Linked DNA regions of Homo sapiens: regions 1 and 3 are each linked to region 2. Evidence: fine-mapped expression QTL. A gene starts in region 2. Each other region holds a variant in brackets. All regions are shown on one strand. Distances are between the middles of the regions.

Region 1 (8,166 bases), 58 kb before region 2:
TCAGCCTTGCAGTTAGGCACAAAATAGTCTGGAGTGGAAATAGTAGGTGCCAAGGCACAGAGGTGGGCATGGCAGGTGTCCGTTCTGGGCTAAGCAGCAGAAAAGCAGGCAAGAAGAACCACATGAGAACAAGCTACAGTTGGCCCGCCCAGAGCGTCTTGGGACGCTGAGTTCTGAGAGACATGCGCCTTCATTTGCCCTGGCCCTCAGAACCAGTCTAAATCCTCAGTTCGGCTGCCTTCTCTCTGGGACAGCCCTGAGTGGGAAATAGAGGGTAGCAGTGCAGGGCCCTTCTGGAAGCTTCTCCAGCTGGCCTGAATCACCTTGTGCTCATCAGGGTTCCTCAAATGCAGAGTGGTTCCTAGACAGCCCGAGTCTGCCCTCAGGCACCTATCATTTTGACAACTCATCAATCACCCACCCTGTCTGTGGCTCTTCAGGAACTCAGCGTTTCTCTTAGACCTCGAGCCTCCGAGAAGACGCTGTGCTACGCCCCCAGGGGCGACTTCCGGTCATTGCAGCACCGTGATGTGGATCCGCAAGTGAACCATCAGGGCTGAGCTACGACTGAAGGCCTTCCCACAGTCGCTGCACTTATAAGGCTTCTCTCCCGTGTGGATCCTCTGGTGCTCAATGAGGGAGGAGCTCTGTGCAAAGGCCTTCGGACAAACCTTACACTGATATGGCTTCTCTCCAGAGTGGATTCTCAGATGTCGGATCAGGGCTGAGCAGTCGCTGAAGGCTCGGCCACACGCGTCACACTTGTAGGGCTTCTCCCCGGTGTGGATGCGCTGGTGTTGAGTCAGGTGCGTGCTCTGGCTGAAGGCTTTCCCACACGCGTCACACTCGTAGGGCCGCTCCCCCGTGTGCACCCGCTGGTGCTGGGTGAGGTGAGTGCTGCGGCTGAAGGTTTTACCACATTCCCCACATTTGTAGGGTTTCTCTCCAGTATGAATCCTTTGGTGCTGAGTCAGGTGGGTGACTCGGCTGAAGGCCTTCCCACATTCCTTACACTCATGGGGCTTCGCCCCTGTGTGGACAACCTGGTGCTGGGCGAGGTGAGTGCTCCGGCTGAAGGCTTTCCCACACTCGCTGCAGGCATATGGGGTCTTCCGAGAATGGGTCTTCTGGTGTGCCTCGAGCGCCGAAGCACTCTGGAACATCTTCCTACACTCGCGACACTTGGAGGACCTCTTCCCTGAGTAGGTGTATGGAGGCTCTGTCCCATAAGCATCCACCAGATCAAATTTGTCTTCTGAAGGAGGCTTCTCTTGGGAGGTGAGGTTTGGCCACGCACTAGAACTGTTCCTCGAGGCACCAGATTCACGGCCACGCTGGTCTGTGGGGACATCCTTGTAAGGCCCTGAAGTTTTCTTGAAGTGGATCTGTTGGGTGACAGACTTTGTCCAGATCTCCCCTGATAGTCCAGACCTCTCTGAGCTGCCCTCAGGTTCACATGCCTTGACAAAGGCGGGTCCAAGGGAAACACCTCCCATGAGGGTCTCAGTGACATTTGATGGCTCTGACTCTCCCAGGTCACTCTGCTTGCAGCTTGCCTCTGTGGGCTCGGCTCCTGGATCCCATCCTGAAACAGTCCGAACCACACTGTCACTCCTCCTACCACACCAAGCCTCCCCTACTCTGCCGAGGGCCCCGGTCACACTTTGTAAGGGGAGATGTGGCCCGTTCCTAACATCTGGCCCCAGTTCCAAGGGGAAGTTTCTCATTTGGTGTCTTGGATGACAAAGGGTGCAGGGCTGTCCTCCCACACCATCCAAAACTACACCATGGGTTCTGATTTCTCCTCCTCCCACCAAACTCGCCATCTTTCAAGGCTCCCAATTTTGGCTCAAGAGTCAAGAGGAGAAACCCTGATGTGGAACTGATCTGGAGACAGAGAGAGAGGGAGGGTCTGTCCTTGTCAGGACCCTGAGCACATGCACCCCTGCAGGCTCTGATCTCTGTGGGGTTGCAGTTCTGTCCCTCACACTCAACACCTTGCGTCTAGGCCTGGATGTGTCCCCTGCAGGCTCTGATCTCTGTGGGGTTGGAGTTCTGTCCCTCACACTCGACACCTTGCGTCTAGGCCTGGATGTGTCCCCTGCAGGCTCTGATCTCTGTGGGGTTGGAGTTCTGTCCCTCACACTCGACACCTTGCGTCTAGGCCTGGATGTGTCCCCTGCAGGCTCTGATCTCTGTGGGGTTGGAGTTCTGTCCCTCACACTCGACACCTTGCGTCTAGGCCTGGATGTGTCCCCTGCAGGCTCTGATCTCTGTGGGGTTGGAGTTCTGTCCCTCACACTCGACACCTTGCGTCTAGGCCTGGATGTGTCCCCTGCAGGCTCTGATCTCTGTGGGGTTGGAGTTCTGTCCCTCACACTCGACACCTTGCGTCTAGGCCTGGATGTGTCCCCTGCAGGCTCTGATCTCTGTGGGGTTGGAGTTCTGTCCCTCACACTCAACGCCTTGCGTCTAGGCCTGGATGTGTCCCCTGCAGGCTCTGATCTCTGTGAGGTTGCGGTTCTGTCCCTCACACTCAACACCTTGCCTCTAGGCCTGGATGTGTCCACAGGTGCTCAGTGAATTCTGGCTGAATGAGGGAATCCATCCAGAAGCCCACGATGGTGAAAATTTCTGCAAGTAGAACCCCAGGTAGAATATGGCTGCTGGGGGTGAGTACATGAGGTACCCATCTGGCCTCTCAAGCCCCTACATTGTAAAGTACTATGAAGGCAGAGTGTGGCGGAGGTGCTCTTGGAGATCAGAGTGTGCATGAGGTAGAGGAATGCTCGCACTGACCTGCCCTGCATGGGTGCAAAGGACACATAATCTGGCACATCTACTGGATGGATTCCAGGGAGGAGGCAGAGACAGGTGGAATACCCACTGCTCAAGTCCACAGTGGGGCTCAGCAGTGCAGAAACTGGACTCAAACCCCAGGTCTACCACCTTAATCAGTCCTGCCCTCATCTGGGACTCAGTCTCCCCATCTGTAAGCCATGGATGCTGTGCCGCTGGCCTTCCAGGGCCACTAACCACTATCAGGCTCTTGTCGTGCTGGGCCCCAAGCACAGTGGGTGACTTCCATCGCCTCATTTCAGCTTCGACCTGCTCTCAGAAGGAGGTACTGCTGTGATTCTGTTGCAGATGGGGAAACTGAAATCCAGCTGAGGGAAGGTGTTGAGTAACTGGTACAGGATCACAGTTAGCTAGTGGCCCAGTTGGGATTTCAGCTCCAGAATGTTCTCCTCCAGGTCCACAGGCAGTCTCCCCTGCTCCCCCAGCCATCTGCTTGGCCCTGTCTCCCCCTTCCTTCCTCTATCCAGAAACATCACACCACCTGCTTTTACCAGAATACACCAGTGCAAATCACACTGCCAGGCCTTTGACCCCACCATTCCCTCTGCATTTTACCCTTTCTCTGAGCTTTGGCCAACCCTGTGGGAGGATGGGGCCACTCCCTCCTTCCTCTCCCTGTCTCTGTGACATCTGCTTGGGCATAGACCAACCTCTGTTCCAGAGAGGCCTGTTTCTCCCAGAGCTGAACAAATTATCCTAACAGTTGCAGTTACCATTTATTTAATCTGTGCCAGGCACCATTTCAGGTGCTGCACGGGTATTGCCTTGTATCTCGCAACACCACTAAGGTGGGCGTTTTTATTACAATCCCCATTTTACCCATGAGTAAACTGAGGCACAAGGGAGTCACATGGCCAGGAAGAGCAGCAGCGGTTGGATCTACTGAGCCTTGATGATGCAGCTGTATCCAGACTCCACATTCCTCCTGCACACTGCACGTTTCCTCCCAGTGTGTGGTATGCCCACCTCCTATCTGTTGCCAATAGGCCAGGCCAAGCCCATCTGAGACGAGCCACCACTCCCTGCTCTGGATTGTCCCAAGGCTGGGTCTTCCCTGCATCCCACTGGACCTCCCTGGGTTGGGATGTTTGTGTGGGTCTCTGTGAGTA[A/G]CAGTGCCCAGCTGAGCCTGGGGCAGGTCTGACCCACCCAAATCCTGGAGGCCAGCCCAGGGTGGGCATAGAGAAGGTACACAGGGACATCTGGTATTTCCGTCACCCCCAACAGCCACCCCAGGCACCCAGGCCCTCGTCTGGTTTCCTCTGAGAAACAGCCAGTTGCTCACTGTTAGTCCCTGGGATTTGGTTGGCCAAACACAAACATAAGATCCCAACCAGGCCAGTGGGGGCTCAGACCAGGGACCTCTTATTGTTATTACCCCGGGGTTTCTACATTGGTAAGACATAAGCCTGGGGTTCCTGGCTATCTTTAACCCCTTTGGAAAGAGAACCTAAAATAAGAATGAAGCTAACACAGAAAAAACCAACTGAGAAACAGAACAAGAGAGGAAGAAGAGAGTTCTGATGCTGTCAACAGATCTTCTGGATATAGCCGTATCTGCTGCCTCCTTACCCTTCTTTGCTTCAGCCCATTTCAGCTCGCTTTTGGTCACCTGCAACCAAAACACACCTGTCTACAACAGTGTGTGAGAGTTACGGTAAAGTACAAATGTGAGAATGGGTGCATGAGCAACCCCAAACCAGAGCCCTGTGCTCCCATGTTCCTGTCCAGGGTGTATCTCTGGTGTGCCGTGAAGCTGCCCACGGCGCCCCTTTACCTCTCTTGTCCAGCACCTGAGTCAGATCCTCCACCAGCACAGCGGCTTCCTCTCCGCTCTTGGGACTCTGGGCTCCCACCCAGGCTTGGATCTCTGGGGGCAGCGCACCCAGGAACTGCTCCAGCACCAGCAGCTCCAGTATCTGCTCCTTGGAGTGCGCCTCGGGCTGCAGCCACTGACAGCACAGCGCTCGGAGGTGGGCCAGGGCCTCGTGTGGACCAGATGCCTCCTCATAGCGGAAGTGCCGGAAGCGCAGGCGTGCAGCCTCAGAGTGAGCAATGTGGTCATGGCTGGATTCTCCGCCCTGGGAGAGGCTGGCTTCCTCTTCCTCCTCCACCTTCACTTGAAGGAAGCTGTCCTCTTCCCACGGCACTGGGCTCAGGGAGTGCTTGGGGATGGCCATCGGGCAGCAGTGCTCAGTGAGACACAGGATGCCGGAGCCTTGGAACTGGGCCTGCAGGAATGTCAGAGCTTCAGCATCACATGGAACCTGGGCCCTGCCTCATGCCTACAGAGCAGGGAAAACACAGGCTTGTGGCCCGTGAGATGTGAAAGACTCTCACAAAGACATAGACAATCCTCATAATTAGGACAGCACCCACTTGGTGCTGAGCACTGTTCTAAGCTACTACTGCTTGCATGTAGACTCATTTAAAACTTACAACAAACACCATCCTGGCTAACATGGTGAAACCCCGTCTCTACTAAAAATACAAAACAAATTAGCCAGACGTGGTGGCGGGCACCTGTGGTCCCAGCTACTCAGGAGGCTGAGGCAGGAGAATGGCGTGAACCCGGGAGGCGGAGCTTGCAGTGAGCCGAGACTACGCCACTGCACTCCAGCCTGCGCAACAGAACAAGACTCTGTCTCAAAACAAAAACAAACAAACAAAAAACTTACAACAAACTCAGGAGGTGGGACTTTCTACCTATTTTATGGATGGAAAAACAGACACTCAGGAGGAAAATATTTGCCCAAAGTCCCTCAGCTAGTGAAGGGTTAACAGAGAGCTAAGCTACAAACCCACGCAAACCTACAGCCAGCCTGTTTAAGGCGTGCTCCTCCCCAACAGAGCCAAGTCTTTCTCCCTCTGTTCCCCAGGTAGCCACATGGTCATTCTCTCACTTTACTTGCTAATTATTTTGTAGTGTTTGAGATTGATACATAATTGACTTTCGCCTTTCCTCTTTTCTAATGCACATATTTAAGGCTATAAATTTCTCTCTAAACACAGCTTTAGCTATACATCACAAGTTTGATATGTTGTATCTTCATTATCATTTAGTTAAAAATATTTTCTAATTTCTGTTACAATTTCTACCTTACTCATTAATTATTTTTTAAAATTTATTTTATTTTTTTGAGACGGAGTCTCCCTCTGTCGCCCAGGCTGGAGGGCAGTGACGCTATCTCGGCTCACTGCAACTCCGCCTCCCGGGTTCAAGCAATCCTCCTGCCTCAGCCTCCCAAGTAGCTGGAACTACAGGTGTGCACCACCATGTGAGGCTAATTTTTGTATTTTTAGTGGAGACGGGGTTTTGCCATGTTGGCGGGGCTGGTCTCGAACTCCTGACCTCAAGCGATCTGCCTGCCTCGGCCCCACAGAGTGCTGGGATTACAAGCATGAGTCACCATGCCCAGTCCCATTGGTTATTTATTTAAAACTCTCCTGCTTCATTGCCAAACAACTGGGGGTTTTCTAGTTGTCTTTTTATTACTGATGTCTAGATTAAGTCTGTTGTGGTCAGAAAACATGCTACAATGGATTTCGATCATTTAAAATTTGCTGAAACTTGGTTTGTGACCCAGTGTATGGTTAATTTTGGTTAATGTTCCATGAATACTTGAAAATAATGCAAAGCTGTCTTAGCTATGACACCAAAAGCATAAGTAACAAAAGAAAAAATAAATAAACTGGACTTTATCAAAATTAAAAGCTTTTGTGATTTGAAGGACCACATCAAGAAAGTAAAAAAGCAGCCCACAGAGTGGGAGAAAATATTTGCAAATCATATATTTGATAAGGGACCTGTATCTAGAACAACTCCATAGTAAAAAGATGAATAATACAATTTTAAAATGAGCAAAGAATGTGACTAGACATTTCTCCAAGGAAGATACACAAATGGGCAATAAATACATGAAAAGATGCTTAACATCACTAGCTACCAGGGAACTGCAAATGAAAACCACAATGAGATAGCACTTCACACCTGCTGGGATGCCTATAATCAGATAACATGTGTAGGCAAGGATATGGAGAAACTGTAATCCTCATATGCTGCTGCTGGGAATGTAAGATGGGATAGCCACTGTGGGAAGTACAGTCTGGGAGTTCCTCAAAAGCTTAAACAGAGTTACCCCATGACCTAGCAATTCTACTCCTACGTATAGACCCAAGAGAAATGAGTATATGTCCTCACAAAACTTTATACATAAATGTGCATAACAGCATTACTCATAACAGCAAAAAAGGAGAAACAATCCAAATGTCCACCTGATGAATGGATAAAATGCTGTATATACCTATAATGGAACACTATTCACCATAAACAGAAATGAAGTACTGATTAATGCTACAACATGGATGAACCTTGAAAACATGATGCTAAGTAAAAGAAGAAAGACACGGCAGGGCACGGTGGCTCACACCTGTGATCCCAGCACTTTGGGAGGCCGAGGTGGGTAGATCACCTGAGGTCAGGAGTTCAAGACCAGCCTGGCCAACACAGTGAAACCCCGTCTCTACTAAAAAATACAAAAATTAGCTGGGTGTGGTGGCAGGCACCTGTAATCCCAACTACTCAGGAGGCTGAGGCAGGAGAATCTCTTGAACTTGGGAGGCAGAGGTTGCAGTGAGCCGAGAGTACACCACTGCACTACAGCCTTGGCGACAGAGGTAGACTCCATCTCAAAAAAAAAAAAAAAAAAAAAAAGCATATTAGTGTTTGTCAGAGGCTGAAGAGAGACAAAAATGAGAGTGGTTGCTAATAGGTTTGGGAATTTCTTTTGGGGATGATAAAAATGTTCTGGAGGCCAGGCGCGGTGGCTCACGCCTGTAATCCCAGCACTCTGGGAGACCGAGGCGAGTAGATCACGAGGTCAGGAGTTCAAGACCAGCCTGACCAATATGGAGAAACCCCATCTATACTAAAAATACAAAATCAGCCGGGCGTGGTGGTGCATGCCTGTAATCCCAGCTACTTGGGAGGCTGAGGCAGAAGAAACCCTTTAACCTGGAAGGTGGAGGCTGCAGTAAGCCGAGATTCTGCCATTGCACTCCAGCCTGGGCAACAAGAGTGAAACTCCATCTCAAAAAATAAAATAAAATAAAAATACAGCTTTTAAAAAAATAATGTTGGCCAGGCACGGTGGCTCATGCCTGTAATCCCAACACTTTGGGAGGCCAAGCTGGGCCGATCACAAGGTCAAGAGATCGAGACCATCCTGGCCAACATGATTAAACCCCGTCTCTATTAAAAATACAAAAAAATTAGCTGGGCGTGGTGGCGTGTGCCTGTAGTCCCAGCTA
Region 2 (8,178 bases):
CTATACACCACCAGTGTTGCTGCTAGGTTAAAAAACAAAACAAAACCACATATACTAAATACTTCAATTTTTTTATTTTTTATTTTGAGACAGGGCCTCACTCTGTTGACCAGGCTGCAGTGCAGTGGTGCAATCTCGGTTCACTGCGACCTCCATCTCCCTGGTTCATGTGATTCTCCCACCTCAGCTTCCCAAATAACTGGGATTACAGGCATGTGCCACCAAACCCAGCTAATTTTTGTACTTTTAGTAGAGATGGGGTTGCACCACGTTGGCCAGGCTGGTCTTGAACTCCTAACCTGAAGTGATCCATCTGCTGTGGCCTCTCAAAGTGCTGGGATTACAGGCATGAGCCACTGCACCAGGCCCCAAATACTTCAATTTTAAAAGGACATTTCCTTTTAAGAAAAACATGAGTAGATTAAAAAATAAGAAAGAAATTTTAGTACAGGTAGCAGGTGGCTCTAATAGGAAACATACAGAAAGATGCCTTTGGTTGGGAACTGAGGTCTCTGCTCCTGTCTCTGTGTCTTCGCTTTCCTCCACTCAGAATGCCCACCAATTTTGATTTGTGCTTCCCGTGCCTCCTGCCCCCACCTCCCATCATCACCCATTCTGCAAGAGTCACTGGTGACAGCCTAGACACCACGTCCACTGAGTACTGGTCTGTCCAAGCCATGAGAATTCTCAGTGGCATCATACAAGTCCTTCATGCCTCCTCTTGGCTTCCTTCTTGGAATTCTAGCAGAAGCCCACTCCTTGTTGTCTCATGATGTTCTTTCTGCCCTACATCAGATCCCTGCAGCCTTCCCTCTTGTCTTGCACTTCTGGAGCCTGAAGGGGTGGGGCTGTGCTCTGATGTTTCTCCTTTACATATTCTTTTCACCCCAGCATCAGCCAACACCTGGTCACTGGGCCTAACCACTCCTCTCTTTTTCCCACTGCCTTAGTTGAGCTGCCAGTATCTCCCTTCCCACCAGCCCCTAATGCATAAGTGGATTTTTTCAACCCTATGCCAGTCCTGCTTAAAACACGTGAATGGCTCCTTCTCATCACTGAATACTGGATGGCTCCTCTCAGCCTGGCTATGGTAGACTGAGATATATAATGGCCTCCAAGGATATCCAGGTCCTAGTTCCTAGAACCTGTGAATATTACTATATATGGTAAAAGGAACTGTGCAGATGTGATTAGGATTTTCAAACAGAAAAATTATCCTGGATTATCCAGGTGGGCCCTAAATGCAATCACAAGTGTCTTTATAAGAGGTAGACAAAGGGAGCTATGACTATAGAAGACATAAGGCAATATGATCACTGAAGCAACATGCTACAATGCAGGCTTTGAAGACAGGCAAAGGGCCATGAGGCAAGGAATAGAAGGTCTGTACCTCTCACAGCTGGAAAAGACGAGGAAACATTCTACCCTAGAACCTTGGTAGGGAGGGTAGCTCTGCTCATACCTTGATTCCAGACCAGAAAACCGATTTCAGACTTCTGACCTCCAGAACCTAAGAACAAATGTTTTAAGCCACAAAATTTGTAGTGAATTGTTACAGCAGACACAGATAACCAGATAAAACACTGGACCTTGAAGCTCTCCATTCTGGTCCTTGTCTCCTGTGATGGACAGTCTCCAAGATGCTCCCCCACCACCTCTGCCAATGACCTCCAGCCCTGGTGTGGTCCCCTCCAACACTCAACAAGGTTGACTTTGTAACCAGTAAGACACCGTGGAAGTGACAAGAGTGTGAATTCTGAATCCAGGTCATGGAAGGTGTTACAGTTTCTACCTTGCCCTCTCCTGGATCACTTGTTCTGTGGGAAGCCAGATGCCATGTTGCAAGGATCCCTAGCAGTTCCAAAGAGAGGCCTACATGGAGAACAACTGAGGTCTCCTATCAACAGACATGTGAGTGAGCCATCCTGGAGGTGGATCCTCCAGACTCAGGTCTCAGGTGACAACAGCTATGCTGACATCTTCACTGTAACTTCATGGGCCTGAACCAGAACCACCAGCTAGGACATTCCATTACTCCTGTCAGAACTCGTGAGATATTTATTGTTGTTCCAGGTCACGAAGTTTTGAGTTACACAGCAACAGGTAACTAATACACTTTCTCTCAAGCCTTTCTTACGACTCATTCCTTGTCCCCCATCCACAGCAAGAACAAAATAAAACGTGGTAGCATTTCATGCAAATTTGGAGCAACACACATCTGAAAACCTGCAACCTAAGATTATCAAGTCTCACTTTGTGTACCAAATCTGAAATAATGCAAATCCCCATGAACAAACCAACGACAAAAAATAAAAAAAAGTATAATTTCAAAGTTGCAGAGCTTGAGGAAGGATAATTATTGTTGTTTCCTGCCACGCGAGGCAGCTTTATGGAGAACACAGGCCGCAACCACTTTGTCTAGAAAGTGGAGCTCTGATGGCCAGATGGCCCTGCAAACACTGACCGCCCTGCACTGCAGTTCTCCCACAGTCTCGCAGGGGACGACCCTGGTGGTCACTCTCATCACACTCAGTGCGTGGTGACCCATCATTGCCCCCAAGAGGTTGTGCCCAAGCCCCAGGGCAGGGGCTCCGCGGTGCTGGGGTCCCGGTGGGTGTCCGCTGACTCCACGCGTTAAAGCATCTCTATTCGATGATTCTTGCCATCTGGGCACCCGGCCAACGCTACAATTACTGTTATCAGTCAACACGAGGACAGACCTTCCTGGAATGGGCAAGGGTGTCGGCGGGGCGGAGCAGAACGCAGGAGATGGGCCTGCTCGATTCTCTCGGGAATGACCGACCCCAGCCCTGGGGAGGACAGAGCCGCGTGGAGCATGCGCATTCGGGGGCCAGGCGCCTGGTTGGAATCCCGGCCCCCTCTCTGACCAGCCAGGACGGTCACCACGCCCCGACCCGCGTCTGAGTTTCCCCACGTGTCAAGGGCATTAACAGCGGTGCCGCTCTCATCGCGCCGCGAGGTGAAAGGGTCAGTCTGCGCGGGAGACGCTTGCCCGGAGCCCGCCGCCGTCGTTATTGTTGTTATTGTTACCTGAAGCCGGGCCGCCGGCGGCCCCACAGACATCACTCCCGCTACCCCTTCGTCCTCGGGGTCCATGCTGGATCGCCCAGTGAAGGACAGCGCCTGAGGTGATCCCCAGACCAGAGAGGCACTCCAGCCAAAGGGACCACCCGACTCGCCGAACGCCGGACAATGGCGGCCGCACCGGCGACGCGGCGACTACAACTCCCAGTAGGCCGTGCGGCGAACCACAGCCCTCGGCCAATGGGAGTCTCCGCTGGTCTGGCCTTCGACCAATGGAAGCATTATGGCCGATGGCCAATGGGAGCCCCCACCCGCTGGCCTCTGGCCAATGGGAGCACTCAGCTAAGGCTGGTGGGGGCGGTGTTGCTCGGGGCTGCGATGCCCCTTAGGTTGCGGGCAACCAGAGGCCTCACTCGTGGGCAGGAAGCAAGGGCGGACCCCGAGAGATGACTGATTGTGGGGGTGGGGACCGTCTGCTCCTCCTAATGGCTGGGGACCGTGCACGTCTGCGCGGGCCGGACCTGCTCTTCTCGGGAACTTGCGCGGGAGGAGGCCCGGAGCTGCGCCGCTTTACCCTCTGCTCCCCGGTGCCTAAAACGCACACGCATCAAAGTCACAGGACGAGTTAGAGGTTTGTTCATATAAAAGACTTTGGGCTTAGCGGCTGGAAGCGGGGAGGCTGGGAGCGGTGGTTGTGTTACAGGAAAGGGGTCCGATTCAGACCCCAAGGGAGGGTTCTTGGATCTCGCGCAAGAAAAAATTCAGGGCGAGTCCGCAGTGCAAAGTAAAAGCAAGTTTGTTGAGAAAGTAAAGTTGTGAAACAGCTACCCCATAGACAGTAGGACGTTCCTGAAAGTAAGAGGAACGTATGCACCCTAGGTACAATGCTTGTGTATATTTGGGCTAAAAATAGATTTTGGGGAGATGTGCTCTGCTACAAGGGTTTGTGAAAAAGGATTAATTTTCTTACTGTATTTTTCAAGAATCGATATTATTTTTAAAGCAAAATTAGGAATGCCTTTGTTCTCTAGATACCGGGATATCTGGACACTCCCAAGTCTGGGTCTGTTTTAGTACCCATTATTAATTTGTTCCCTTAACCGTAAACATCTAGAGGTTAGGAATACCTACTTTTCTGGGAATGCAGCCCAGCCTCATTTTCCTAGCCCTCACTCAAAATGGAGTCGCTCTGGGTCGAATGCCTCTGACAGCCCTATTGCTTCTCCCTGTGGGTGTTCACTTTGTGATGTGTCTTTTTCTGTGGGTCTGTTGTAGTCCATTAAAATGTTTATTAAAGGTCGGGCGCGGTGGCTAACGCCTATAATCCCAGCACTTTGGGAAGTCGAGGCGGGTGGATCACGATGTCAGGAGCTCGAGACCAACCTGGCCAATATGGTGAAACCCCGTCTCTACTAAAAATACAAAAATTAGCCCGGCGTGGTGGCGGGCACCTGTAGTCCCAGCTTCTCGGGAGGCTGAGGCAGGAGAATCGCTTGAACCTGGGAGGCGGAGGTTGCCGTGAGCCGAGGTCAGGCCACTGCACTCCAGCCTGGGTGACAGAGCAAGACTCCGTCTCAAAAAAAAAATAAAAAGTTATTAAAAAAGAAAAATGGGGAAGCAGATTTCCATTCAAAAATGTTGCATTCAAACCACAACAATTTTTAACTTTTTTAAATTTTACCAAGAGCCAGACACATAGCAGGGAACAGTATAGTTACTTGTTATTTGCTCACCCCCATGGGGCTGATGGTGTAGTCTGAGGGACTGAAGATCAACCATGACATGGCCCTTCACACCGTGTTGAAGGGGTGAAGACGTTACCAGTGGGGACGGAGGAGCTGACTCCCGAGGGGCTCAAGCTGGCCACACTCTCTCAGATCCTTCTGGCCGACTCCTGAGGGCTCAAGCTGGCCACACTCTCTCAGATCCTTCTGGCCCTGTACCGTCTCTGCTTTTTGCTGGGCCTCGTTCCTGAGAAGGAGCAGGTGTTAGGCAAGTTACACAAAATTATGAGAGGACATGGTTTTGGACTGAGCTCCTGCTCTAGGCCTCATGAGACCAGACCAAACCAAGACAGAGTCACTTAGGCTAAATGCCACATAATCAGACTGATACTTTAAGCAGGTAGATCCCTAAACAAACCAGATTTCCAGTCTACCTGAGCAGCATAATAAGGAAGTCCCCTCTGCTTTAATCCTTACAAGAAAAGTAACCTAGTGTTAACTAATTAGCCTTTTCTCTATCTTACAAAAACCACTATTCTACCATTTGCCCCGTGGGAGCTCTCATTCCGTTTTGCAGAGTGGAGGCTGCCCAGATTCATGAATCACAAATAAAAGCCAATTCGATCTTTAACCAAATTTGTTAAAATTCTGTCTTTTGGCTGGGTGTGGTGGCTCACGCCTGTGAGTGAATCCCAGCACTTTGGGAGGCTGAGGTGGGTGGATCACCTGAGGTCAGGAGTTTGAGACCACCCTGGCCAACATGGTGAAACCTTGTCTCTAATACAAATACAAAAATTAGCCAGGTGTGGTGGCGGGCACCTGTAATCCCAGATACTCAGGAGGCTGAGGCAGGAGAATCGCTTGAAACTGGGAGGCGGAGGTTGCGATTAGCTGAGATTGCGCCACTGCACTCCAGCCTGGGCGACAGAGTGAGACTCCATCTCAAAAATAAAATAAAATAAAAATAAAATTCTGACTTTTGACAGATGTCTTCACTCACCTGAGCAAGTGGCAGCTGCTGTGGGAACTGGATCAGGCAGCCTTCCAGGAGACTAAATCTGTCTTCTATTGGGAGTCCCAAAAAGCTCCCAGGCAGCATCCCCTTCTCTGTAGGCAGAGAAGGTACTAGGAGGATCTATTGCCTTCCCCTGCACAGTGGCCACCAGTGTTGGAGAGGTAGGGGCAGGTGTGCAAAGATCTATTCTCTTTAGGGGAAACCTGTGTGTTCTTTTTTTGTTGTTTATTTGTTTTTTGAGACAGGGTCTCACTCTGTTGTCCAAGCTGGAATGCAGTGCTGCAATCTTGGCTCATTGTAACCTCCACTTCCCAGGCTCAAGTGATCCTGCATCCTTAGCCTCCTGAGTAGCTGGGAGCACAGGTGAGAGCCACCACACTGGGCCAATTTTTGTAGAGACTGGATTTTGCCATGTTGCCCAGGCTGGTCTTGAACTCCAGAGCTCAAAGCAATCTTATCTGCCTCAGCCTCTGAAAGTGCTGGGATTACAGGAATGCGCCACTGCACCCGGCCCTGTGTATTCATTTTGGAGCCAGTCACTGGGCTCAGCTTTCCTCCTAGTTCTAATGGTGTGGAATCTGTGATTTTGATGTCCTATTATTTCCTCTTTCCTTTTTTTTTTTTTTTTTTTGAGACAGGGTCTCACCTGTTGCCCACTCTGGAGAGCAGTGGTGTGATCACAGCTCACTGCAGCTTCAACCTCTTGGGCTCAAGGGATTCTCCCACCTCAGCCTCATGCTACCATGCCTGGCTAATTTTTGTATTTTTTGTAGAGACAGGGTTTTGTGATGTTGCCTAGGATGGTCTTGAGCTCCTGATTTCAAGCAGTCCATCCGCCTTGGCCTCCCAAAGTGCTGGAATTACAAAAACGGTGCCCAGCCTATTTTTTTTTTCTTTTCTAGTTCTTGTTTATCTCCTTGATTATAAGGTAGGAGTTTGTCTATTGCAGTAGTTCTTAAAGTGTGGGTCAGGGAGCCCTGGGCGTTCCTGAGATCCTTTCAAGGGATCGGTGGGTTCAAAACTAAATTCATAATAATAATGAGATGTTGGCTTTTTCTTTTGTTGCCAGAGGGCTCAGGAAGGTCACCGGATGCCAGTGCCAGTTGGTGTCCAGGTTCTTGAAGCCATCACAGGAAAGAATTCAGGGATAAGTCAGAGTAAGCAGAAAGGCAAGAAGCTTTCATTGCAAAGTGAAAGGAAACACGGGAGACAAGTGTGGGGGGGCTCCTGGCTCCTGAGTCACACCCAACATTGTTTGCATTTCTCATTTTATGGGTGTTTAATTATGGGTGGAATAGTCATTCGGTATCTGGAAAAGGAGGGGATTTCAGGCACCACCCTCCCCCTGCCCCACCCCAGTTACCACCCCCTTTCTCCCTTATTTGGGTTTGCCTGGAAGAGTCATGGACCTGTCACCCTGACCAGGGTTTTGGCTGTCTTCTCTCCCTTATTTTGGGTTTTGTTATTCTGTGGTTTCTTTGCCTACTGCTTGTTTTAGTTGTCGTTTGGGTTTTTCCATTCTCCTGGACTACCCAGTGCTATTCCTCTCTCATTTTCATAGGAATATACAATAGAGTTTTCCAGAGGCTGCTGGATGAGTCATATTGTAACAGATGCAATGGGAACATGGAGCTATGGGAACTCAACTGCCTTAAGTGAAGCCAGACATTAAGGAGATTTGAAAAAATATAATACAATGCCACTCTTCTCCCTATTTCTGTTTTGGAAAATGCTGTTTTTCGTAAAGTAGGTGCTTTTTAAAAAATATGTTGTATTAGTCATGAGGGCTCTGGTAACAACATACCACAAATGGGGTGGCTTAAACGACATAAATTTATTGTTACAGTTGTGGAAGCCAGAAGTCTGAGATCAAAGTGTTGGCATAGTTGGTTCCTTCTGAGGGCTACAAGAAAGTATATGTTCCATCCCTTTCCTTAGTTTTTGGTGGTTTGCTGGCAATCTCTGGCATTCCTTGGCTTGTAGATGTCTGACTTTGTCTTCAAATGTCATTTTCCCTGTATGCGTGACAAGTTGTCTGTCTCCAAATTTCTGTTTTTATAAGGACAACAGTCATAATGGACCAGGGCTCACTCTAATGACCTCATTTCAGCTCTTTAAAGACACTGTCTCCAAATAAGGTCTGAGGTACTATGGGTTAGAACTTCAACATATCAATTTTGGGAAGAGACACAGCTCAACCTATATATTAACATAGAATAGATTTTGAAAAATTATATTAATAAAATATATTAATTTTTTTCCGTTTTAATTCCTAATACACCAAATATTGATAGGACCTACATAAACAAAAACTGTTTAGGAGCCGGGCACGGTGGCTCACACTTGTAATCCCAGCACTTTGGGAGGCGGAGGTGGGCAGACCATGAGATCAAG
Region 3 (8,178 bases), 95 kb after region 2:
ATGCCACTGCACTCCAGCCTCGGTGACAGAGACCCTGTCTCCAAAACAAAAAGAAGCTGACTTGTCTGTATTATAACACCCCCAAAATGTGTATATATATTCACATACATTCACGTAAGCCTATATAAGAAAGTCTGGCTGGAAATACACACCAGGGTTACCAGTGATTATGAGGGGAGGGCAGTAGACAATGCGTGTAACAGACTAAGGGAGCCCCTACTGTCAACACAAGTATCACCTGCCACCAGCAACAGGTTCACTTTCAACCAAGTAGGACACTGCTGACTGTGGAGCCAGAGAAAAACTTCGAGTTTGGTTCTGCAACTGCTCATCACAGCATCCCACCTGGGGTATCCCAATGTCTACTGCTTTTCCAAGATACTGGTCCCTGACTCATCAGTTGGCCCCTTCCCTGTGGGGGCTTCCCATGTCTGGTTCTCACCTGGAATGGTGTCTTGAGGAATTCCTCTCTCCACTGGCCAGAAATCTTCTGCCTCCTCTAACTGAGATACCACATCTGGTTTGGAAAGCTGATGTTCTGCTCAAAGGAAAAGAGACAGGGCTTGTGGGGGTCTGTGTTCAGGAGAAAATGCTATCCTACTGCAGCACAAGCCGTCTCCAGCTTCTCCCCTGCTAAGGCACATGACTTCTGGCCTAGAGCAGTGAACACAACTCCATCCATCCCTGTTGTTGGCTTTCCTAGACTCCTTTGCCAAGCAGCTAAGGGGTCCAGTTCTGGTCAGCCAGACACAAAGGGAGATCGGTCAGCTGGGAAAGCTTTTGCTTTCTGGTTAAACATGACAGCTGTGAAAGGGCTACCCCTTCTCCTTGTTTCTGCCTTGAACACAGATGCAATGCTTGGAGCCACAGCTGTGCAATGACTAGGGGGAACATGGAAAGGTTCACAATAACCAGAGTTTGAAGGGACAGGCTTTTTTTTTTTTTTTTTGAGACGGAGTCTTGCTCAGTTGCCCAAGCTGGAGTGCTGTGATCTGATCTCAGCTCACTGCAATCTCCTCCACCTCCCATGTTCAAGCAGTTCTCCTGGCTCAGCCTCCTGAGTAGCTGGGGTGCTCGGCTAATTTTTGTATTTTTAGTAAAGACAGGGTTTCATCATGTTGGTCAGGTTGGTCTAGAACTCCTGACCTCAACTGATCTGCCTGCCTCAGCCTCCCAAAGTGCCAGGATTACAGGCGTAAGCTACCGTGCCTGGCAGGGACAGGCTCTTTGATGCTACTCCTAAGCTGTTGGGACACTGGCATCGCATTGTCTGGAATTTCTGTGGAGTTTCTTTTTTTTTTTTTTTTTAATAGAGACACGGTCTATGTTGCCCATGCTGGTCTCAAACTCCTGGGCTCAAGCAATCCTCCTGCTTCAGTCTCCTAAAGTGAGCCACCATGCCTGGCCGGAACTCTTGTTGCAAGAACAATAAGCATCCACTACTGCAGCTGAAAACATCCCTGACAGACCCATCTCCCTGGTATTCAGGGAGGGATGGACTAGGCAATGATTCAGAAGTCATACTGAAAAGCTGCCCTTTTCCTACTGGTGCCCCTGCAGTGTGAGCCCAAGCAGACACATACTTCAGAGGTGCTACATTTGTGCTACAAAGCACAGATCCTTCTTGACCTGGAGGCCAGCCTTACCCACTGAGACCAGGTTCCTGTAGTTCTCCAGCATCACTTCCCTGTACAGGGACTTCTGTTTGAGGTCCAGCAGTCCCCACTCTTCCGGGGTAAAACCCAGTGTTACATCTTCAAAGGTCACTGGTTCCTAAAAATCCAGATTCTTGTTCAGCCACAGGCCATCCGCATCCACGACAAAAGAAAGACAGGGGAGGCTGACCAGGCCAGTGAAAGCACAGAATGGTCTACAAGATGACCCAAGGGCATTTTGGGAGTCTCATCCTGAGTTCCTGTCTTTGTCTGAAACCCCAAGCAAACCCAAGCTTGACTCTATTCAGGTTACAATAAGGAGAGCAACACATGAGATCTCTGTAGCATATGAAAATCTGTCCATTTTATTTATTTATTTATTTATTTAATTTATTTATTTATTGTTTTGAGACAGAGTCTCACTCTGTCTCCTAGTGGAGTGCAGTGGCGCAATCTTGGCTCACTGCAGCCTCCACCTCCCAGGTTCAAGCGATTCTCCTGCCTCAGCCTCCTGAGTAGCTGGGATTACAGGCGCATACCACCATGCCCGGCTAATTTTTGTATTTTTAGTAGAGATGGGGTTTCACCATGTTGGTCAAGCTGGTCTCGAACTCCTGACCTTGTGATCTGCCTGCCTCGGCCTCCCAAAGTGCTGGGATTACACATGTGAGCCACCGCACCCGGCCCTATTTTTCTTTTCTTTTTTTTTTGAGACGGAGTCTCTCTCTGTCGCCCAGGCTGGAGTGCAGTGGCGCCATCTCGGCTCACTGCAAGCTCCGCCTCCCCGGTTCACGCCATTCTCCTGCCTCAGCCTCCCGAGTAGCTGGGACTACAGGCGCCCGCCACCACGCCCGGCTAATTTTTTGTATTTTTTTAAGTAGAGACGGGGTTTCACTATGTTAGCCAGGATGGTCTCAATCTCCTGACCTCGTGATCCACCTGCCTCGGCCTCCCAAAGTGCTGGGATTACAGACGTGAGCCACCGCGCCCGGCCCCCTATTTCTTATTCATTTGAAAATTCTGACTTTGGGAGTGGTGCGTATGCCTCCTAGGGAATTCTCTGAGCTGCACCATCACACCCAAGCCGTCAGCCCCTACCCAGGGCCCTGATGCTTCTTTCTATCTCCTTCACCTGTCAGGGATCCATCCTCACCTGTCTTTTCTACTTGTTATTGAACTCTGCTGCTGTCACCTCTTGCTTGATGCCAATTTATCTGCTGAAATCTAAACATAAGCCTGATCCCTGCATAGACCTTTGGGAGGCCGAGATGGTCGGATCACCTTAGGTCAAGAGTTCCAGACCAGCCTGGCCAACATGGTGAAACCCCGTCTCCACAAAAAACACACACAAAAAATAAAAATAAAAAAAAAATTAGCTGGGTATGGTGGCACACGCCTGTAGTCCCAGCTACTCGGGGAGGCTGAGGCAGGAGAATCACTTGAACCCAGGAGGCGGAGGTTGCAGTGAGCCAAGATCGCGCCACTGCACTCCAGCCTGGGCGACAGAGGGAGACTCCATCTCAAAAAACAAAAAACAAACAAACAAAAGACCTGTCAATTACTCTTCCCAATATAAAGGATACAAGCAAGAGCCTTAACCTGGCCTTCAGAAGCCCCTACAATCTGGTCTCTATTCTAACTACACCCTTGGAAAACCAAGCAACCTGCGGTTCCACCATCACGCAGGATCTCTCATGCCCAACCAATCTCTACCCCCTCCCCGAGGTGCTCTGGAGGATGGGGGTATCTCAGGGAAGGTGGTATCTCACCACCATCCGCATCCTCCCAGGTGCAGTAGCGGACTCAAAAGCTGAAGGAAGCCTCTACTCACACAGGACCAGGCCGTCGGAAGCCTGGAGGCCATAGTTTCCTCCTTCTCAATGTGTCTCTGGTGGAAGTGGGCAGAGTCCTGAGGAAACCGAAGTTGGGAGGGGAGGGAGAGGCTTAAGGTGTCCGCTGGGGAGCTACCGCAGCCTCCGCCCAGGAACGGCTCCCTCAGCGGGAAATGACAAGTCCACCCAAACTGGAAAACGCCCAGAGTGAGTCATAGGACTCCCACAGGACTGGATAGGACCAGTTTTCCCCTCCCCGAGAGGACACCGAGCCTCCTCTGTCCCGCGCATCGGAGGGGATCGCCTCCCTGGCCCAGACCCCACGCTTCCGGAGGCGATCTGTTCTCTCCACCGCGGCGCCCCGAAAGCACTGTCTCCCCTCGGGGTTCCGGGTCACCGACCCCATCCCACAGAGCGGCGGGAGGACTGCAGGCACGGCCGGCTCAGGGTACCCGAGCTCGGCGGAAAATGCAGAGGCCGCGCTCGCCCCCAACTAACGGTTCTGGACCCGCCCAGCGCAGCCCCCGACGGACGCAGGTTTCGCGCGGCACTCACCCGGCGCGCGCCGCACAATGGCGCCCGTCGGCCGGCGGCGAAGTGCGTCAGCCCGCCGTCCCGAACTACAACTCCCAGACGCCCCCGCGGCGCGCCAGCTTGCCTCACCCAGCGGCGGCCATCTTGACTGGCCGGTTAGGGGCGGCAGGCGAAGCCGGGGACAGCAGGAGGAGGATACTCGTCGATGTCCCTCGGCGGTCCAGCTAGGCAAGGGGAGGCCTCTGGTGAGGGACGCTAGGCCGCAGGGCCCCACACTAATGTGGGCGGCGACCCGAGCTGGGAGAGAGTCGTGCCCTGCCACGAAGGCGACCACTCTTGGGGCAGAGCAGAAGCTGGAGAAAGGAAAGGCGCTGGACAGGGGTCAGGCCGGAAGTGCTGGAATGGGTGATGCTTGGTTGGGTGGCGGTGGGGGCGGGATTAATTATGACGTCCCTTGGGAAGAGGAAGGGCGGGTAGGGCCGGAAGTGCAGGGGGCGGGCCTAACTGGCCGTCCATCTGGGTGGAGGGGCGGGGACAGGGAGGGCGGGGAGAATGTAGGAGGCGGGGCTAGAGTCCAC[G/A]CAACTTTTGGGGAAGGAGGGGGACTGGAAGACGGAAGTCGCGGGGGGAGTGGGGAGAGGTACTGAAGTTCCACCAGTTTCAAAGTCGAGAAAGAAGGGGAGGACTGGGAGAGCCGGAAGTGTGCAGGAGTTGGGACTGACGGCACTTATGTTTCTGGGAGATGGGTCCTGCCTGAAAGTGAGGGTGGACAGGGCCAAGTGTCCACTCAAGGTCAGGGAGGGGAGGGAAACTCGGAGGACCGGAAGTGTGATGGGAACGTGGCCAAACGTCCACCCTAGTTCTGGGGATTAGAGGAAGGGAGTAGGAAGGTCAGGGGTGTGCAAGGGGAAGGAGGGAAGACTAGGTGGACCACAAGTGTGATGGGAATGAGGCCAAACGTCTACCCTAGTTCTGGAGAGATGATCAGGGCTAACTGTACCCCAGGCATTGGGGAGGAGGAGCAGGATCCTCTGCCTAGTGTCCCCCTGTGGTCCAGTTTGCTCCTGGAAGCTGAGGTGCTCATGTCTAGGGAGAGGAAACCTAAGTCTGTAGCTGTCCAGGACCTGGTGTGTGCCACCCATCCTTGGGCCCAGGGTGCTCTCATCTTCCTTGGGAGCTCAGGACAAGGAGGTATTCTCTTGGCTTCCTCAAGGACCGACATCTGGTGTTTTCTTATCTTCCTTAGGTCCCAGGTCCCAGTATGGTCTTGTCTTCTTGGGACCTGAGGGCCCTAATGATCTCTCTCAGTGCTCAGGACCCTGTGTCCTCTTTCTTGATATTTCCTGGCAGGTCTCAGCAGCCCTCTGCCTCCCTCTGGTGGTCGTGTACACTGCCTGCTAAACTTGTTCCACGGGTTGTTGGTTTTTTTGGTCACTGTGGAGGATCCAACCTCAGGCTACACATTGTTTAATTGTTGCTGTTAGTGTGTTGATTTTGGCATAGGAGTATTTACTCAGAGACTGTGCAGATATCTTATAGTCTAATAATATTTCATTGGATTTTTCGTGTCTATTATAGATACAACACCATCCCCAATTAATAAGTAATTTGATATCTTCTTTTTCCATATTTCAACTTTAAAAAATTAACATTGTATAGTCCTAGCTAGTATGACAGAGCTATGTTAAGTAGTCATGTTTACTAATAGTCTTGTTTTGTTCTGGATTTGAATAGGATACGTCTAGCCCTTCATAATCACAAGGAAGCAAACCCCCTTGGAAATTCTTTTTTTTCTTTCTTTTTTTTTTTCTTGAGACAGGGTCTTGCTCTGTCACCCCGACTGGAATGCATTGGTGCGATCACAGCTTACTGCAGCCTCCACCTCCTGGGCCCAAGTGATCCGCCCACCTTAGCCTCTCAAATAGCTGGGACAGGTGCACACCACCACACCTGGCTTTTTTTTTTTTGGAGACAGAGTCTTGCTCTGTCGCCCAGGCTGGAGTGAGGTGGCACAATCTCGGCTCACTGCAACCTCTGCTTCCTGGGTTCAAGCGATTTTCCTGCCTCAGCTGCCCAAGTAGCTTGGACTACAGGTGTGTGCCACCATGCCTGGCTAATTTTTGTATTTGTAGTAGAGACGGGGTTTCTCCATGTTAGCCAGCCTGGTCTCGAACTCCTGACCTCAGGCAGTCTGCCCACCTCAGCCTCCCAAAGTGCTGAGATTATAGGCATGAGCCACCCCGCCTGGCCTCTTTTGTACTTTTTTGTAGAGACAGAAACCTCACTATGTTGCCCAGGCAGGTGGAAATTCTTCTAATGATTTCTTTCTATTTATGTGGTATAGGATAAAACCTGATTTTTGATTAAAAGAATTTGTTTTTGAGACAGGGTCTTGTTCTGTTGCCCAGGCTGGAGAGCAGTGCTGCAGTCATGGCTTACTGCTGGCCCAACCTCCTGGGCTCAAGTGTTCCTCCCATCTCAGCTTTCCAAGTAGCTAGGACTGACTACTGGTGTGCATCACCACACCTGGCTAATTTTTAATAAATATTTGTGTAGAGATGAGGTCTCAGTGTGTTGTCAGGGCTGGTCTTGAACTCCTGGACTCAAGCAATCCTCCCGCCTTGGCCTCCCAAAGTGCTGGGATTGCAGGCGTGAGCCACCATGCCTGACCAAAGATGTTTTGTTTTTTTTTTTTTGTTTTGAGACAGAGTCTCGCTCTTTCGCTCAGGCTGGAGTGCAATGGCGTGATTTCGGCTCAACTGCAACCTCTGCCTCCCGGGTTCAAGTGATTCTCCCTGCCTCAGCCTCCTGAGTAGCCGGGCGTGCCACCATGCCCGGCTAATTTTTGTATTTTTAGTAGAGATGGGGATTTGCCATGTTGGCCAGGCTGGTCTCGAACTCCTGACCTCAGAGGATCCGCCCACCTCGGCCCCGCAAAGTGCTGGGATTACAGGCTTGAGCCACTGTGCCCAACCTAAAGATGGTTTTATATAAGCATATTATTGAAGATTGATTTATGAGAGCCATTTTAATTCAACTTTTAATAACTGCATACTCTTTTCCTGTTTAGCAAATTAAATATGCTGTTTATTGTAATTTGTAAAATAAAAATGACTTCTGAAGAAATGTTAACTATTAAACATGTAAAATGTTGAAAAAATTTATTCATCGTTGTTGGATTTAGACAGTGCCTCGATTGCTTGTTCAAAACCTTCTGAGCCAGATGTATTTTGGAATTCATGATCATTTGGATTTTAGTAGGATGGTAATGTATTTACACCATACAGTGTGTAAATCCCTAAGAGGTGTGGGGTAGCACCTGCCATCAAACACATGAGTATATCTGTAGCAAAATACAAGAAGATTTACACTAGGTGGAAGAGAGACAAAATATAAATAGCCTTGTTCATATAAATTTTGCAGACTCATAACAGGGAGAAATTTTCTGTTAGAAAATATCTGGAATTTTGAATTACATAGAAGGCATTATGGATCATAAGTGAAAATGTGTGTTGTAGAAATAGTAGTTATTTCATTCAATTGCAAAGTTTAATTTTTACTTTTTCTCTCTTAATATAGTCTGCATAGGGCCAGGTGCGGTGGCTCACACCTGTAATCCCAGCACTTTGGGAGGCTGAGGTGGGTGGATCACCTGAGGTCAGGAGTTCGAGACCAACCTGGCCAACATGGTGAAACCCCGTCTCTACTAAAGGGGGCTCCATCTCAAATATATATATATTCCACATAGTCAGGCATAGGTTTATTGAGATACTGAGTTATTTAAATATATTAATATTTTTCCATGTGCTTTTTTTTTTTGAGATGGAGTTTTGCTCTTGTTGCCCAGGCTGGAGTGCAATGGCACTGCAACCTCCGCCTCTGCCTCCCGGGTTCTAGCGGTTCTCCTGCGTCATTCTCCCTAATAGCTGAGATTACAGGCAGATGCCACGACGCCCAGCTAATTTTTATATTTTTAGTAGAGACAGGGTTTCACCATGTTGGTCAGGCTAGTTTCGAACTTCTGACCTCAGGTGATCTGCCCATTTTGGCCTCCCAAAGTGCTGGGATTACAGGAGTGAGCCACTGCCCCTGGCCCCATATGCTTTTTTAAATCAATGGTCTACTGTTGGTTTAAATTAAACAACATATGGCCGGGCGCA

The links.
Region 1: its variant is fine-mapped to the expression of ZNF8-DT in minor salivary gland (GTEx, PIP 0.96).
Region 3: its variant is fine-mapped to the expression of ZNF8-DT in transverse colon (GTEx, PIP 0.97).

Annotation. Positions count from the first base shown.
Region 1 is chr19:58,331,673-58,339,838 of GRCh38, reverse strand. It overlaps ZSCAN22 (zinc finger and SCAN domain containing 22), which reads right to left. Exons shown (of 3, transcript NM_181846.3): 2 at 4,634-5,087; 3 at 1-1,585. The coding sequence starts at 5,036. The coding sequence ends at 513. It overlaps MIR6806 (microRNA 6806), which reads right to left and starts at 5,151; the gene lies at 5,088-5,151. RefSeq lists an enhancer at 827-1,328. The variant A/G (reference allele first, on the strand shown) is at 3,969.
Region 2 is chr19:58,274,021-58,282,198 of GRCh38, reverse strand. ZNF8-DT (ZNF8 divergent transcript) reads left to right here and starts at 3,457. Exons shown (of 3, transcript NR_187495.1): 1 at 3,457-3,676. It overlaps ZNF8 (zinc finger protein 8), which reads right to left and starts at 3,244. Exons shown (of 4, transcript NM_021089.3): 1 at 3,052-3,244. The coding sequence starts at 3,117. ZNF8-ERVK3-1 (ZNF8-ERVK3-1 readthrough (NMD candidate)) reads right to left here and starts at 3,233. Exons shown (of 7, transcript NR_144447.1): 1 at 1,590-3,233. It also overlaps a transcript of ZNF544 not described here. RefSeq lists enhancers at 2,649-2,698, 3,119-3,168.
Region 3 is chr19:58,179,307-58,187,484 of GRCh38, reverse strand. It overlaps ZNF274 (zinc finger protein 274), which reads right to left and starts at 4,424. Exons shown (of 8, transcript NM_133502.3): 1 at 4,043-4,424; 2 at 3,487-3,564; 3 at 1,647-1,773; 4 at 443-538. The coding sequence starts at 3,519. RefSeq lists enhancers at 3,572-3,761, 3,388-4,099, 4,012-4,431, 4,100-4,813. The variant G/A (reference allele first, on the strand shown) is at 4,600.